Linked DNA regions of Homo sapiens: region 1 is linked to region 2. Evidence: fine-mapped expression QTL. A gene starts in region 2. The other region holds a variant in brackets. All regions are shown on one strand. Distances are from middle to middle.

What was found. PIP is the estimated chance that this variant, and not a neighbour inherited with it, causes the effect.
Region 1: its variant is fine-mapped to the expression of PEG10 in tibial nerve (GTEx, PIP 0.90).

The regions. Positions count from the first base shown.
Region 1 is chr7:94,799,134-94,807,478 of GRCh38, reverse strand. It overlaps the pseudogene RN7SKP129. Among named protein-coding and RNA genes, the nearest start is that of PPP1R9A, 100 kb to the left of the region's middle. The variant C/T (reference allele first, on the strand shown) is at 3,613.
Region 2 is chr7:94,652,255-94,660,588 of GRCh38, reverse strand. PEG10 (paternally expressed 10) reads right to left here and starts at 4,264. Exons shown (of 2, transcript NM_001172437.2): 1 at 3,998-4,264. The coding sequence starts at 4,002. It overlaps SGCE (sarcoglycan epsilon), which reads left to right and starts at 4,456. Exons shown (of 11, transcript NM_003919.3): 1 at 4,456-4,599. The coding sequence starts at 4,491. RefSeq lists enhancers at 1,938-2,232, 3,012-3,061, 4,331-5,108 and a silencer at 2,302-2,541.

The DNA of each region.
Region 1 (8,345 bases), 150 kb before region 2:
TTTTTCTCAGCAAGGAACATCCCTGAGAAAGAGAATGCGCACCTGGGGGTGGGTCTCTGAACTGGATCCCCTGGGCATGGCCATCTCCTGTGGTCGAGACTGCAGGGGTGAAATAGACCCCAGTCTCCCATAGTGCTCCCAGGCTTATTAGGAAGAGGAAATTCCCGCCTAATAAATTTTGGTCAGACTGGTTGATCTCAAAACCCTGTCTCCTGATAAGATGTCAATGACAATGGTGCCCAAAACTTCATTAGCAATTTTAATTTCGCCCCGGTCCTATAGTCCTGTGATCTCGCCCTGCCTCCACTTGCCTTGTGATATTCTATTACCTTGTAAAGTACTTGATGTCTGTGACCCACACCTATTCGCACACTCCCTCTCCTTTTGAAACTCCCTAATAAAAACTTGCTGGTTTTTGCGGTTTGTGGGGCATCACGGAACCTACCGACATGTGATGTCTCCCCTGGATGCCCAGCTTTAAAATTTCTCTCTTTTGTACTTTGTCCCTTTATTTCTCAAGCTGGCCGATGCTTAAGGAAAATAGAAAAGAACCTACGTGAGTATCGGGGCAGATTCCCTGATAGATTTCTAGTTTTATTCTATTGCGGTCTGAGAAGATACTTGATATAATTTTGATCCAAAATTTTTTAGACTTGTTTTGTGTCCTAACATATTGTCTACCCTGATGAATGTTTCATGTGCTAGTGAAAAGAATGTATGCAGACAGTTAGATAAAATGTTCTGTAAACCTCTATAACATCCATTTGGTCTGAAGTCCAGTTTAAACCCAGTGTTTCTTAGTTGAATTTCTGTCTAGCTAATCTGTCTTATGCTGAGAATGGGGTCTATTATTGTATTGTAGTTTATCTTTCTCTTTAGATCTAGTAATATTTGCTTTATGAATCTGTGTGCTCCCTGCTTCTCTCTCTTGCAATTATATATATATATATCTCTCTCTCGCAACTATATATGTGTATATAATATATATACACACATATATGTATATAATATATACACACATATATACATATATAATATACACATATATATGTGTATATTATATATGTATATACACATATATAGTTGCGAGAGAGAGAAGCAGCTCTCGCAACTTCTTTGTACAATAATCAGGAAAAAATTGGCCTTATACAATTATTTTATTCTTAATTATTGTGAGTCATATGGTTTGAAAGCTGAGTTCTGTAAGCAAAGCCAAAAGTCATTTTTCTATTTTTTAATTTGTTTATAGATTGTAAATAAAACAATTTTTAAAATGTGAAGGTAAGCACAATTAAAGGTGTTCATTATTAGATATAGTTTAGTCACTCTAACCAAACATATTTACTAACATATTATGCAAATTAACACATTTATTTAGCACAATAATTATTATTCAGAAGGATTGAGGGATTTTTTTTTTTTAAAAGCATGGGGCCTTTGCTAACAAAGCCTCAGAAGTCATGTAGCATCTCTACTGGCACATTCTATTCATTGATGAGTCCTCCCTGGTTCAAGTGGAGGGATTGTGGACTCCTCTTTATGAGAGGAGCATCAACAAATTTGTGTAAGTGATTTAAAACTACCACAATGACTGCCTGTTTCTGTCTAAAATCCAGATAAGTCTTTTTGGTAGATTGCATTATTGGCCCAATTATTCAACTACCTCTGTATGACAATCTGTTTTAGTCTAGTTTGGATGAGATAACAAAATACCATAGACTGGGCAGCTTAAACAATAGAAATTTATTCTATCATAGTTATGAAGGCTGAGAAATCCAAGATCAAGGTGCCAACAGATTTGATTCTTGGTGAGAGCCTGCTTCCTTGCTTAAAGATAGCCAACTTCTCGCTCTGTCCTCACATAGTGGAAAGAGGAAGCTGTTGCCTTCCTCTTACAAGAGCACTAATCTCATCATGGGGGCTTTACCCTCATGACTTTATCTAAACCTAATTATCTTTCAAAGAATCTACCTCTTAATATCATCATATTGGGAGTTAGGGCTTTGACTTATACATTTAGGGGAAACACAAATGTTCAGTCCATAACACAACACTTCCATGTAACTTTGCAGTCTCTTGTATGCCTTCATAGGAAAGGTAATTTTTTTTTCTGCCCATTGACTTTAGCCATGAACATGTGGAATTGCTTTGGTCAATAATATATTAGCAGAAGTAACGCAGCAGAATTTGAAATGCTCTTGGGTCATAGGGATGCCCTCTTGAGCTTTGTCACTGCCATTAGAACTTTATCTAGCTTTATTTTAGGTCCCAGAAGGAAGATGAAAGAGTTAGAAAGCAGATCCATCCCAGCTACCACAATCTGAAAAGGAAGCACCCCAGCAAACCTACAGAATTATAGGAAAAAGCAGACGTGCCCAGCCAAATTCCTCCCAGGCCAGCTAAACTCCAGGAAAGCCACAGATAAATAAATATTTTAAGCTACTTAGTTTTGGGGTTGTTTGCAATGCAGCAATAGTCAACCAAACTAGTTTTATATTATTCAAGTATACCCTGATTTAACTTTCCACAGTGGAATTACAAAATATTTCTATATATGTCATTTATATTTCCTTTCAAGTGTATGCTTAAGTGTTTTTGCTTTTGTGTTGTTACTTGAACGAGTGTTGTTGCATTACATTTTTGAATTGTAGACAGCAAGGCAATTAAGATTTGATTATGAATTTTGCTTCCAACTACTTTATGTCTTATTATCACTAATACCTTTATAATAGTAATTGTAAAAACTTGATTTTATTTTGTATAGATACCATATGGTTTGATTATATTTAAATCTATGTTTCACTGTATTTAAAGTTTAACACTACATTTTTTTTCATTCAGAATCTTACCAGGGAGTTTATTATTTCAAGTCATCTTTTATGTAACTGGACAATATCCTTAAATGATTTTTTAATCGACTCAATATAGACATAATTTACATGCAACAAAATATGCATATTTTAAGTGTATAGTTTAATGAGTTTTGACAAACATATACAACTACGTAACCACCACTATAATCAAGATTCAGAATGTTTCAATTACTCTAAAAGGATCTGTTGAGCCCCTCTGAAGTCAAACTCTATCCTGAACTGCAAAGTATCCCAGATCTCCTTTCTGTCAAAATAATTCTCTTCAAGAATTTGGTAAAACTGTAATCATACAGTATATATTCCCTTGTATCTGGCTTCTGTGGTTTAACACAATATTTTTGCAATTTATTCATGTATCAGAATTATTGCTGAATTAAAAATTTTTTAAATTACCAAATAGTATTTTGGTATATGAATTTATCAAAATTTACTCATTTGCTAATCAATAGACATTTGGGATGTTTCCAGATTTGGGTTGGTATGTTAATCACTCACATTCTTATTTAAGTACTATTCTTTTGTGAGTCTTTTATTAGATATGTCATTTCTCTTAAATATATACCTAACAATAGAATTGCTGAGTCATGAGGTAGATGTATTTTTATTGTTATTAGAAATTGCCAAAAAGGTGGCCAGGCATGGCGGCTCACACCTGTAATCCTAGCACTTTAGAAAGTTGAGGCAGGCAGATCACCTGAGGTCAGGAGTTCAAGACCAGCCTGGCCAACATGGCGAAAAC[C/T]CATCTTTACTAAAAATACAAAGAAAAAAAAAATTAGCCAGGTATGGTGGTGGGTGCCTGTAATCATGGCTACTCGGGAGGCTGAGGTAGGATAATTGCTTAAACCAGGGGGCCAGATTTGCAGTGAGCTGAGATTACACCACTGCACTCTAGCCTGGGCAACAGAGTGAGACTCCATCTCAAAAAAAAAAAAAAATTGCCAGAAAGGCTTACAAAATGGTTTTACTATTATAAACTTCTACCAACAATCTATGAATGTTCCAGTTGCTCCACATTCTTATCAATATTTGGTAATATTAGGTGGGTGCAAAAGTAATCCTGGTTTTTGCCATTACTTTTAATGTTTTATATTAAGGTTTTCAATTTTAGCCATTCTAGTGGATAGGTAGTGTTATCAAATTGTGGTCTTAATTTGCATTTCTATAATGAATAAGGATGTTGTGGAACATCTTTTCATTTATAGTCATGTATCACTTAACAACAGGGATGTTTCCTGAGAAGTGTGTTATTAGGTGATTTTGTTGTTGTGCGAATATCATAGACTGTACTTACACAAACCTAGATATTATAGCCTACTACACACTAGGCTGTGTGGTATAGCCTATTGCTCCTAGGCTACAAACCTGTAGAGCATGTTAAAGTGTTGAACACTGTAGGGAACTGTAATACAATGGTAGGTATTTGTGTATCTAAACATAGAAAAAGTATAGTAAAAATATTATACAAAAATACAAAATGGTCCACCTGTATAGGGTACTTACCATAAATGGAGCTTCCCAGACTGGAATTTGCTCTGGGGAGTCTGTAAGTGAGTGGTGAGTGAATGGAAATGCCTAGACATTATTGTACACTACTGTAGACTTTAGAAACACTGTATATGTAAGCTACACTTAATCTATTGAAAAATATTTCTCTTTCATCAGTAATAAATTAACCTTAGCTTATTGTAATTTTTTTACTTTATAAACATTTAAATTTTGTAACTTTTCAACTTTCTTATAATAACACTTAGCTTAAAACACAAACACACTGTATAGCTATACAAAAATATTTTTTCTTTCTACCCTTATTCTATAACATTTTCTGTTCAAAAATTTTCATAAATTTTTTCACTGTTTAAACTTTTCTGTTAAAAACTAAGAAACAAACACACACATTATCCTAGTCCTACATAGGGAGGGGATTATCACTGTCACTGTCTTTTACCTCCACATCTTGTCCCATTGGAATGTCTTCAGGGCAGTAACACGTGGAGCTGGCATCCTCTGTGATAGTAATGCCTTCTTGTGGAATATCTTCTGAAGGACCTGTCTGAGGCTGTTTTACAATCAATTTTTTTAAAAAATAAGTAGAGTACATTCTAAAAAAAATAGGGGCAAGGTGCAATGGCTCATACCTGTAATCCCAGTGTGTTGGGAAGCTGAGGTGGGAAGATCTCTTGAGGATAGGATTTTAAGACCAGTCTGGGCAACATAGCGAGACCCCATCTCTAAATAAATATAGTTGGGCATGGTGGCATGCATCTGTAGTCCTAGCTACTCAGGAGGCTGGCTTCCAGGAGTTTGAGGCTGCAATGAGTTATGTACGATAGTGCCGCTGCACTCCAGCCTAGGCAACAGAGCAAGATCTTGTCTTTAAATAAATCAATAAAATGACAACTACAGTAAAATAAATACATAAACCAACAATATGGTTGTTTATTATTATTATCAAGTATTATACATAGTTACATATACATACATAATTGTATGTGCTATACAAGTAGGTTTGTTTACACCAGCAACACCAAAAACACATGAGCAATACTTTGTGCTAGGAAGGCTATGATGTCATCAGGCAATAGGAATTTTTCAGTTTCATTATAATCTTATGGGACCACCATCATATATGTGGTACATTGTTGGCCAAAATGTCATTATGCAGCTCACAACAGTATTTCATGTCCATTCAAATATCTTCTTTTGTGAAATGTCTATTTAAATCTTTTGCGTATTTTTAAATTGGGTTGCTTGTATTTTGATTGATTAGGAAAAGTTATTTCTATATTCTGTGTCATATACTTGTGTTGAAATATATATATTTTTTGTCTGTGCCTTTTTATTTGCTCAGGGTCTTTGGACCTTGTTTGGAGGTTCTGGCAGGGGAACACAGCTACTCATTTATTCTTGATGGAAGGAAGGTCCTCCTCTGTGAGAGAAGCTCATGCTCTTCAACCCAAGCTTGCAGCTTCAGGAGGGAGGCACATGGAGCCATAAAGGAAGAAGGGGACACCCGCCTTTCCAGCCAGATCAGCCAAATCAACACTGGCAATCAATGAGGTGACAGATGTTGCAGCTAGATCACCCTCACATCCAATTTGGTTAGGGTCTTTGGAAGAACAGTTTTAGGAGGCAATTCTTCATGGGCCTGTTATGTTTCTTCATTTATTTTAAGCAAGACACTATTGTGAGCTTTTCTCTGGAATATCATTTAAAGGATGTTTGCATAGCAAGCAGCCATAGAAGAAAAACAAGGTGTCTTCCTTCATAGCAAAGCACGGCATGCTGACTGCCAGTATAATAAAGAGCATGTCTCCTTCCGAACTGAAGGGCAGCTATGCTTACTGCACATAGTAAAAGATTTGAGTTCCCTAAGCTCAGGGGTCCTCTTCAATAATGCAACTCACTGCATGTTTGGGCATTCAGCTGGGCCCATCTGCTTCGCTTCTGCAGGATTTGGGGGCAAAAGGAACTGATAAATGCTAATGGTCATGCTGCTTGCTGTGCCATGAGTGATGACTCAGGAGTCTGGGTGACAGTGTTCACGGGACAGAGGTAACTTCCTAGTTTGTAAGTTGGATAAAGTCAAGTATCTCAATACTTCAGTTCTTGACAAGTAGACATGTTGAATATTGATGCAGTATATTTGGTCAATTTTTGATCTTCTACTTTGTGCTTTTTTGTGTTTTTTAAAGGAAAATATTTTAAGGTCACTAGGATTTTCTTCTAAAATTTTATAGTTTTGCTTTTATGTTTAAGTCTGTGATCCTTTCCAATTTAATTTATGTGTGTGTTTTAAAGTACGGGTCAAGTTGCATTTTTAAAAAATATTAATATCTATTTGTTCTAGCACCATTTATTGTAGAACTATTGTTATCCTCACTGAATTATCTGGGCACCTTCATAGTCAAAGGACCATAGATGCATGGGTTTAGTTTCAGACTCTCTTTTAGTTTTAATAGCCTAACTTTTTTTTTTTTTTTGAGACAGCATCTTGCTCTGTTGCCCAGGCTGAAGTGCAGGCATGATCACAGCTTATCGCAACCTTAACCTTTCACCATGTTGTCCAGGCCAGTCTTTTTTTTTTTTTTTTTAATTATACTTTCAGTTCTAGGGTACATGGGCCCAACGTGCAGGTTTGCTACATAGGTATACATGTGCCATTTTGATTTGCTGCACGCATCAAGTCGTCACTTACATTAGGTATTTCTCCTAATGCTATCCCTACCCATCACCCCACTCCCCAACAGGCCTCAGTGTGTGATGTTCCCCTCCCTGTGTTCATGTGTTCTCATTGTTCAACTGCCACTTATGAGTGAGAACATGTGGTATTTGGTTTTCTGTCCTTGTGATATTTTGCTGAGAATGATGGTTTCCAGCTTCATCCATGTCCCTGAAAAGGACATGAACTCATCCTTTTTTATGGCTGCATAGCATTCCATGGTATATATGTGCCTCATTTTCTTTATCCAGTCTATTATTTATGGACATTTGGGTTGGTTCCAAGTCTTTGCTATTGTAAATAGTGCCACAATAAACATACATGTGCATGTGTCTTTATAGTAGCAAGATTTATAATCCTTTGGGTATATACCCAGTAATGGGATTGCTGGATAAAATGGTATTTCTAGTTCTAGATCCTTGAGGAATCACCACACTGTCTTCCACAATGTTTGAACTAATTTATACTCCCACCAACAGTGTAAAAGCGTTCCTATTTCTCCACATCTTCTCCAGCATCTGTTGTTTCCTGACTTTTTAATGACCACCATTCTAACTGGCGTGAGATGGTATCCCATTGTGCTTTGATTTGCGTTTCTGTGATGACCAGTGATGATGAGCTTTTTTTTGTATGTCTGTTGGCTGCATAAATATCTTTTGAGAAGTGTCTGTTCATATCCTTTGGCCACTTTTTGATGGGGTTGTTTTTTTCTTGTAAATTTGTTTAAGTTCTTTGTAGATTCTGGATATTAGCCCTTTGTCAGATGGATAGATTGCAAAATTTTTCTCCCATTCTGTAGGCTGCCTGTACTCTCTGCTGATAGTTTCTCTTGCTGTGCAGAAGCTCTTTAGTTTAATTAGATCCAATTTGTCAATTTTGGCTTTTGTTGCCATTGCTTTTGGTGTTTTAGTCATGAAGTCTTTGCCCATGCCTATGTCCTGAATGGTATTGCCTAGGTTTTGTTCTAGGATTTTTATGGTTTTAGGTCTTACATTTAAGTCTTTAATCCATCTTGAGTTAATTTTTGTGTAAGGTGTAAGGAAGGGATCCAGTTTCAGCTTTCTACATATGGCTAGTGAGTTTTCCCAGCACCATTTATTAAACAGGGAATCCCTTCCCCATTGCTTGTTTTTGTCAGGTTTGTCAAAGATCAGATGGTTGTATGTAAGGCATTATTTCTGAGGCCTCTGTTCTGTTCCGTTGGTCTATATGTCTGTTTTGGTACAAGTTCTATGCTGTTTTAGTTACTGTAG
Region 2 (8,334 bases):
GGGTAATGGGCAGGCAGGTTAACAGTGCGTATAAAAATGTTTAAACAGCGACTGAGGCAGCACAAGTTAACCTGGGACAAGAAGCATGTTTACTTGATTTGAATTATAGAACTATGTATGGCTCCTTAAACTCCCCCTTAGTAGGGGCTGCATTGGAGGGGAGGGGTCAAGAGGTCTCATTCCTGAAAACTGAAAGGACAAACTGCATAAAGCCAAGTTGCCTAGGACAGATGCCATCTTTACATGATAATAATTTCAGTTTTAGTCTTTTTAGGAAATAAATACATTTGGTTAATTATTGACTCTTCACAATAGCTTGGAATAATTTCTATTCCACAAACACACCAAAGAGCAATAGTAGCCAAAAACCATAAATGAACATCCTGTTAGGAAATGACATCTCATTAAGCAACTCTTAGTTGCTTCATATTTTCAAATGTCCAATTTTTTAGTACTATCTTGTACTATTTATGAAATGCAAATTCTCTTAATATGCATGTTATTACTGTTGTTTTGAACCTCTTCAATATGCAAATATACAATATCCAAAGAGAAGGGAAAATTACTTAAAGCTGTAATTATGATAAGCACAAATTTTCCATAGATTGTGTACTTGTGGTGGGGAGGGGGTATGTGACAGAGATTTTTGGGAGCCAAAGCCCCCAATTCCTCCCCTACCAAAGTCCTGGCTCATGATTTGTAATATATGGAACCAGGTTTTAAAATTTCTTCATTCAGCTGGAAACACAATTCTTACATGGTACCTCTTACTAGCAATCAGTTATAAATTTGTTTTATACAGTTGTTTAATTTTGCAAGCTGAAACAACCTATATTTTGTAATGTGGCCACTTTATATTACATTACACAAACTTTAATACAATATGTACCATTAATAATACACTTGCCCCAAATTTAAATTAGCTTTTTATGAAAAAAGCTAATTATTTGGAATAACTAGCTTTTTATGAAAAAAGCTAATTATTTGGAATAACTAGCTTTTTATGAAAAAAGCTAATTATTTGGAATAACTAGCTTTTTATGAAAAAAGCTAATTATTTGGAATAACTAGCTTTTTATGAAAAAAGCTAATTATTTGGAATAACTAGCTTTTTATGAAAAAAGCTAATTATTTGGAATAACTAGCTTTTCATGAAAAAAGCTAATATTTGGAATAACTAGCTTTTTATGAAAAAAGCTAATTATTTGGAATAATTAAAATTAATTTAGTTGCTTTGTATTATAATTACAGCTTATATCATTGGAGTTTAAAAACACATACACTTTTTTTTTATTCTGTTAAATGTGAGAGATAACGCAAACAAGGCAACCCAGGACAGCAAAGCACCATAGGAAAGGAGCAAATCAGAAGAGACCTACAGACACCAAGCAAGACACTGAATAAACCAATTTACTCTGGTCATTTAACACATATTTAATGAATGCCTACCATGTGCAGGCACAATTTATTATACATAGGCAAATAGGCTAGGGTTAATCACCTAGAGATTCAAGGAAAACACCCAGCTTCATAGGCACGCAAATAAAAGCCTTATCCTCACTCAGAGGCCAAACCAACAGCACCAATTTTGTATCCACCAAAACATCCGATTCCCAAAGGTCCACTAGTGCCTCTAAAAAAACCTTAAATGTGAAAATATTTTTAAAGTTTTTAAAAATAAATTGTTAAGTTTTGGTTTTCATTTGCAGTAAAAACATTTGGCTAAATTGCCTTTAGAGGCACCAGCCATGTCAGTTTACAAGGTCCCTTCATAAGCCACTATCAGGAGTTTAAATTGTGGGATTATGTTATTGAATATATGCAAAGAACATATTAAAAGTGCTCATAAATTCCAGTTATAATTATTATTGTTAATTGTTTTATTTATTATTCTATTAGACTCTAGTAGCCAAAAAGCAAAACCAACACAGCAGAGAAACCGCAGGGGGGCGGGGCTGTACAGCCAGGGCTCAGGCAAGGAAGGTGCGCAGGTGCAGAGGACCGGCGCCTGAAGGGAGGGGCTGAGGGTTCACACTGCGCATGTGTGCTAGCCGGCTCTGAGGGAGGTGGGACTATAGGCCAGCCCGGCAGAGGCAGGCTTAGGGAGGGGCCAAGCCTTGGAGAGGCGGGGCCTGAGCAGGCTACCTAAGAGGAGGCGGGCCTGGGGAGGTGGGATCTGGGTGAGCTCACATCAGAGGAGGCGGGCCCAGGAGAGGCGGGGCCTGGGCAGTTCACCTCAGAGGAGGCGGGCCCAGGAGAGGCGGGGCCTGGGCAGTTCACCTCAGAGGAGGCGGGCCCAGGAGAGGTGGGGTCTGGGCAGTTCACCTCAGAGGAGGCGGGCCCAGGAGAGGCGGGGCCTGGGCAGTTCACCTCAGAGGAGGCGGGCCCAGGAGAGGTGGGGCCTGGGCAGTTCACCTCAGAGGGGGCGGCCCCGGGAGAGGCGGGGCCTGGACAGTTCACCTCAGAGTAGGTGGGCCCGGGAGAGGCAGGGCCTGGGCAGCTCACCACAGAAAAGGCGGGCCTGGAAGAGGCGGGGCCTGAGCAGCTCACCTCAGAATGAGGTGGCCAGAGAGAGGTGGGGCCTGGGCAGGCAGGCGCTAAGGAGCTGGGAGGAGGGGCCTGAGGAGGCCGCATCTAGAAGGCGCGCTCTGGGAAGGCGCGCTGCAGGGGAGGCGCGCTCTGAGGAGGCGCTGTAGGAGGAGGCGCTAAGCACCGCAGAGAAGGCACACTAGGATGGGCGGGGCAGGCCTGAGACTGGCTGCTACAGGGCTGCAGAGTATCTGCACACCCCCCCCCCCCGCCGCCAGAATCCCCCCTCCCAAACCCCTCCCACCAGTCACCAAAGCCAGATTCATTTCATGCAGCAAGAGCAATCCACAGATCCAATTCCCCCGCCATACTCAGCAAACCCACAGTTTCCACAAACTGTTGCTGGACGCTGATTCGCGCCACCACAACTACACCGCCACTTCAATCAAGCACAAGTAGGCAGGCAGCCTGCTCTGCCATCACCAAAAGATTCCCATTTCCACTCCAATCAGTGCCCCTCCACTCCACTGCTATAGCGGGAATGGTGTGGGCAGAATGTTAAACACTAATTTTTGCCCGGGGCTCCATTTTGTCTACCAGCACCATCATGCGAGAACCGTCCTGCAGAAAAATAGAGTGGGAGCCATTCCAAAAGGTGAAAGGGTGGGGTCCTGCTCCAAGAAAACAGAGGAATTGTACTCCGCAGCTCATGTCCCACTACGGCTGCTTTATTTGTAGCGCAAACGGTCTGCAGCTCCTGTACCTCTGCAGCTCTTACCACTTTGTAGTGCATCTTAGGTGTGAATTGTTCCGCAGCTCATGTACCTCTGCAGTTCATGTGCCTCGCAGCGCAATGAAGCGCTGTTGTCGGGCTGGCTAATCGCATCGTTTTTGTAGCGTTTTTTGTAGTGCTACTCTTCTGCAGCTCAGATTTTGCAGCGCATGTAAAGCGCAATTCAGTTTTCTGTCTGCAGCTCCTATATCGCTGCTCCTCGTTCTGGATTGTAGCGCCACTGAAGCGCCCATCCGTCAGTTTGTGGCACATAAAGCGCCCATCAGTTTATAGCGCAATGAAGCGCCAGTTGTAGCTCCCATCAGTTTGTCGCCCGCGTGAAGCGTGCTTGTAGCGCATCTGAAGCGCCAGTTTGTAGCGCATTTGAAGCGCTTATCTGTTTGTAAAGCATGGCACTTGGTAGCGCATTTGAAGAGCAAATTGCAAATCGATCTATAGCTCCTGACCGTCTGCAGCTCATCACTGTCCGCAGCTCATCTCTGTCTACAGCCCGTATCTGGACTTGGTCCTGGAAACCCAAGCCTTTAAGGCTTGGTTTCCCCATTTGTTTTGGGGTACAGCCAGTGAAGGCGTGACAAGTTTTGCGTGGAGACATTCTGGGGTGCTACTCCATCTCCCGCAGCTCCCGATAAGCACGGGGAATGAACGTGATCTTTAAAAAAAAAACGTCCTCACCGCATACTCACCACGCGAGGACTCCTCTGCGAAGACAGGAAGGATGGGGTCCCACACCTGAGCCAGGCGCGGTCTCCACTGGGTGCTCCGCAGCCCGGAGTGGCTCCGGACGACAGCCCGCTCAGCGGACCTTTCGCCAGGCTCGGTGGACCTTCTCCGCTGTTCTCCTCAGGGCGCAGTCAGGTTTCTTCGACACACACCAACCGAAGTTGAAGCGCGTGTACCAGGAGCGCAGACTGTGAGCCTTATATAGGTTGCACCGAGGAGGGGGGCGCCAAATCCCAGCGTGCTCCGCGGGCTAGGGGGTGGAGGGGGGTGCGGGGATGGGGGATGGGGGTGGGGGCGGTGGCCACGCTGCAGTGGCCCGCCGCTAGAGGGAGTACGGGATTACCGAGGGGGTGCGGGATGCTGATGCTGAACTGGCCAAGCTGGGAGGGAAGAAGAAAGGGAGGGGAGGGGAGAATCGAGGACGGACGGCCTAGCCAGGCCAAGAATGCAATTGCCCCGGTGGTGGGAGCTGGGAGACCCCTGTGCTTGGACGGGACAGGGTCGGGGGACACGCAGGATGAGCCCCGCGACCACTGGCACATTCTTGCTGACAGGTTAGTGGCCTGCGCGCGACGTGGAGGTCCCGGGGCCAACAGGCCGCCGCCTCCCCCTCCCCCGCTCGGGTTCCGGGCGCCTGAGCGCGCCCTTTGGGCACCAGCCTCTCTTTCTGTCCCGGACCCCACCGTACCCCTCCTTCAGTACACCCTGTACCCCATTTCCCCGGCCCAGCTTCTCTCTCCCCAGGCTTGACCCCTGGCCTTTTTTTCCTCTCCGCGCCCCCGCGGGCCCCTCCCTGCTCTGCGGGCGCAGAAATTCCATCTCCAATTCCTGTTCCCAACATCCCCCTCCCCGCCCAGCCCCAGGGTAGTCCTCTCCCGATCCCTGTAGCAAAGAGCTGGGGGTCGTTGCCTGTTTTTCTGGGGGGCCCGTTTCCCCGCGATTGGGCTCTGCGACCGCGATGCGAGCCAAAGGAAATGGGTGTCAAGCTGCGTCCCCGCTACACAAACACATCTTTTTTCCTTTTCTTGATAGTGGTAGAGAACACAAAAATGTGACATTTAAAACACCGAATTTCCCCCTCTTGCTAAGTGCATTTCTCGGTGACGGAAATCTCGGTTTTCTTCGGTTTTACGGAGCAGGGAAGCGGAATCATGAAATGCTGGGAGCTAAACAGGGCGTTCAGGTCAGGGTTAACCCCGGCTGGAGGCCAGAGATGCTGCCGTACCGAGTGCGCTATTTCCAGAAACCAAAACCAATTTAAAACAGCTGTGGATGCTTCCAGTGTGTTTGGCGGGCTTTGAAGGCTCCCAGCTACCGACTTTTGGTGGCGATTACGAGGTTTACACAGAGACCTTGCTTCCCTTGCAACGTTACATTTTCCTAAATCTTGTAGGGTGAATGAATGCGTTTAGTCACGGCAACCGCACGTTTAATCCTTTCCAGCGGGTTGCCGAGATTCGGCCACAAATATTTGCGTGCATTTGTACTATGAACATATATATTTTATGTCAGGGAAAATTGCAGTGGCTGATAAGACGCTAAAATTCTGATGAGGAAGGATGCTAAATAAAACCTTAACGCGGATTCCCATCTAAGCGCCTCAGTGTCAGGTGCTTGGGAAACTGACAATCTGTTGATGATCTTAGTAAAACAAGTTTAAGTTAAAAGGGAAAACCAAATTGTCTACAGCTGAGTTAGGTTTCTGAAACACAGATGAAACGCTTTCATATTTGAAGAGCAAAATTGAGCACATTTTAGTAACATTGCTACGGATTATTTTATACTTGGAATATCAATAAGAATTTGACTTATTGTCATAACAACGTTGCAGACACCGCACTTTAAAAGAGAGCCTTTCTAGGAATAAACAAAACTGTAGCCCATTTACTGAGATTTTACTTTTTATTAGAAAATGCCCACTATCCGGAATATGAATGAATGAAATGCAGCTTTTTAACAAAGACATTTCCCTAGGAAGTTGGGTAAACACAATTATACTTTTTAGAAGTGCCTTTTAATTTAATCTTTAGGATGTTCACCCTCTTCTGCAAGATAGAATAATTCCAGGATTTCTTATGCTTGGTAGAGTACTGTTCTGGTGACCGCTGTCAAATTCTTACCAGTTTTGTTTGTTTGTTTAAATTCGAAAGTTACTTCACCTAGTTAACTGAGACATTATTTTTCTAAAAATTGAGATTTAAAACCAGTATAGATGAAAAGCAGGAAAAATTAAAGTTCAAAAATCCATCTTAAGACTTTAAAAGTTTGAACAAGTTTGAACCAATTTGATTTTTTCATTTCAAAATGCTAACCAGGACTTTTTTTAAAAAACGTAATTAGTATTTTACCATAATAAAAGTAATTTCAGGTCATTGTACAAAATTCAGGAGAGAAAACCCTAGAAAACTCTAAAGAAAAGGTCACCTGTAACCTATTCACCCTGCAATAACACCAGTAAACATTATAGAGTCTGCTTTTTCAGACGTTCTCTATGCATATATAGGTAGCTATACAATAAATATTTTTCATAGGATTGCAGTTAAATACTTTCTAAAAGTTAAAAACAAGATCAAATTAATTCTCCTCGATTATTTTCTTTCCAAAGAGCCTTTAAATGTTAAATAACATTAAGTTTGGAGAGCTTTCTTTAAAGGAAATAATATTAATTTTTTAATTAAAATTTTAAATGAACAACCTTAGTACATAAATATTTAAAACCAGAAAACTGAGAAGAATTTTCTCCCATCTCACTATTCTAACATATTGTAGTTTTTTATTCCTCTACATATGAAAATATTTTCACTTTGCTTAGAAATAGAATTTTCTAAGGGAAAAAACAGCATCAATATATAAGTAATTTAGATAAAACCTTTTTGTTATCCAAAAAACAAAACAATACTAAAAATAAAACAGAAAGATAACATTAATAGAGCAATACTTTAGGTAACATTTTTGTGTTGTCTAGAACAACAAACATTTTCAAAACCAAAACCAAAACCAAATTAATAGATAAGAACTTTAAACATATTTTGGATATTTAATATCTATGTGAATTTTGGATTTTCTCAGATATTTATTTCTGGTGTTGACTATTTCTGCCCATTTTGCACAGGGTTGCATATACAGCAAAGAGGAGTTAATGTGTATTATTTATTTTATCAAATAATAACTGGGCTTCGTATTTAGACATTTTATCTATTTTTATGAGAATTTGCTGTAGATCTACGAAGCTGTTGATTTAACACCTATATTTAACTTCTAGTATGTTAAGAAAATTGTATTTCAAAACAAAGTGGGATTTTCACTTGTTAGATAATAACTAGACTTTCTCTTTGGACATTTTACCCATTTAATGAAAATTTGCCATGTATTTATAAAGCTGTTGAATTTACCTTATGTATTTAGCTTAAGTTCTAGGGTTTTAGAAAACGATTTCAAAACAAACTGGAATTTTCACTTGTAAAATAGTAATTGTACTTTCTATTTGGACATTTTATCCCTTTTTAATGACAATTTGCTATAGATCTATGCATCTGCTGACTTACCACATATATTTGGCTTAATTTCTAATATAGAGAAAATATATTTCTAAGCAAAGTAAAATTTTCAGTTGTCAAATAATAACTGGACTTTCTATTTGGACACCTTATTCATTTTTAATGACAATTGCTATGGATTTACGAACCTGCTGACTTACCACCTGTATTTGGCTTAAGTTCTGGTATGGTACGGAAAATTTATTTCTAAGCAAAGTACAATTTCCAGTTGTCAAAGAGTAAGTGGACTTTGTATTGAACATTTTATCCATTTTTACAACAGTTTGCCATAAATCTAAAAGCTGTTGATTTGCTTCATGTATTTTACTTATCCTATAGTATGGTGGATAAATTGCATTTCTAAGCAAAGTGGCATTTTCACTTGTCTCACAGACATTGAAAATAAGGGACAACACCAGAAAAAACTGGTTAGCGACAACCTCAAGGAAATAAAGATAACATGTATCCAGTTTCTAACACTAGTTTTCCACTGGTGAAAATCATGCAGTACACAAAATATTGAAGTAGTGAAGAAATCCTGACTTGTTAAAAAAATTCCCAAGTCAAATATTCAGATTGTTTCTGATTCTAATAAGTGCAGTATTTATAGATCACATTTTCTCCAAAATACCCAGCCACCTTCTTCCTTTTTCTTTTTTGCTAATTATCCATAATCTACCCAAATCCTTTCCTTAAAACTTACCCTTCCATATTCTGTAAACACCTAAATGCATATTCTAACACTTATTTCCT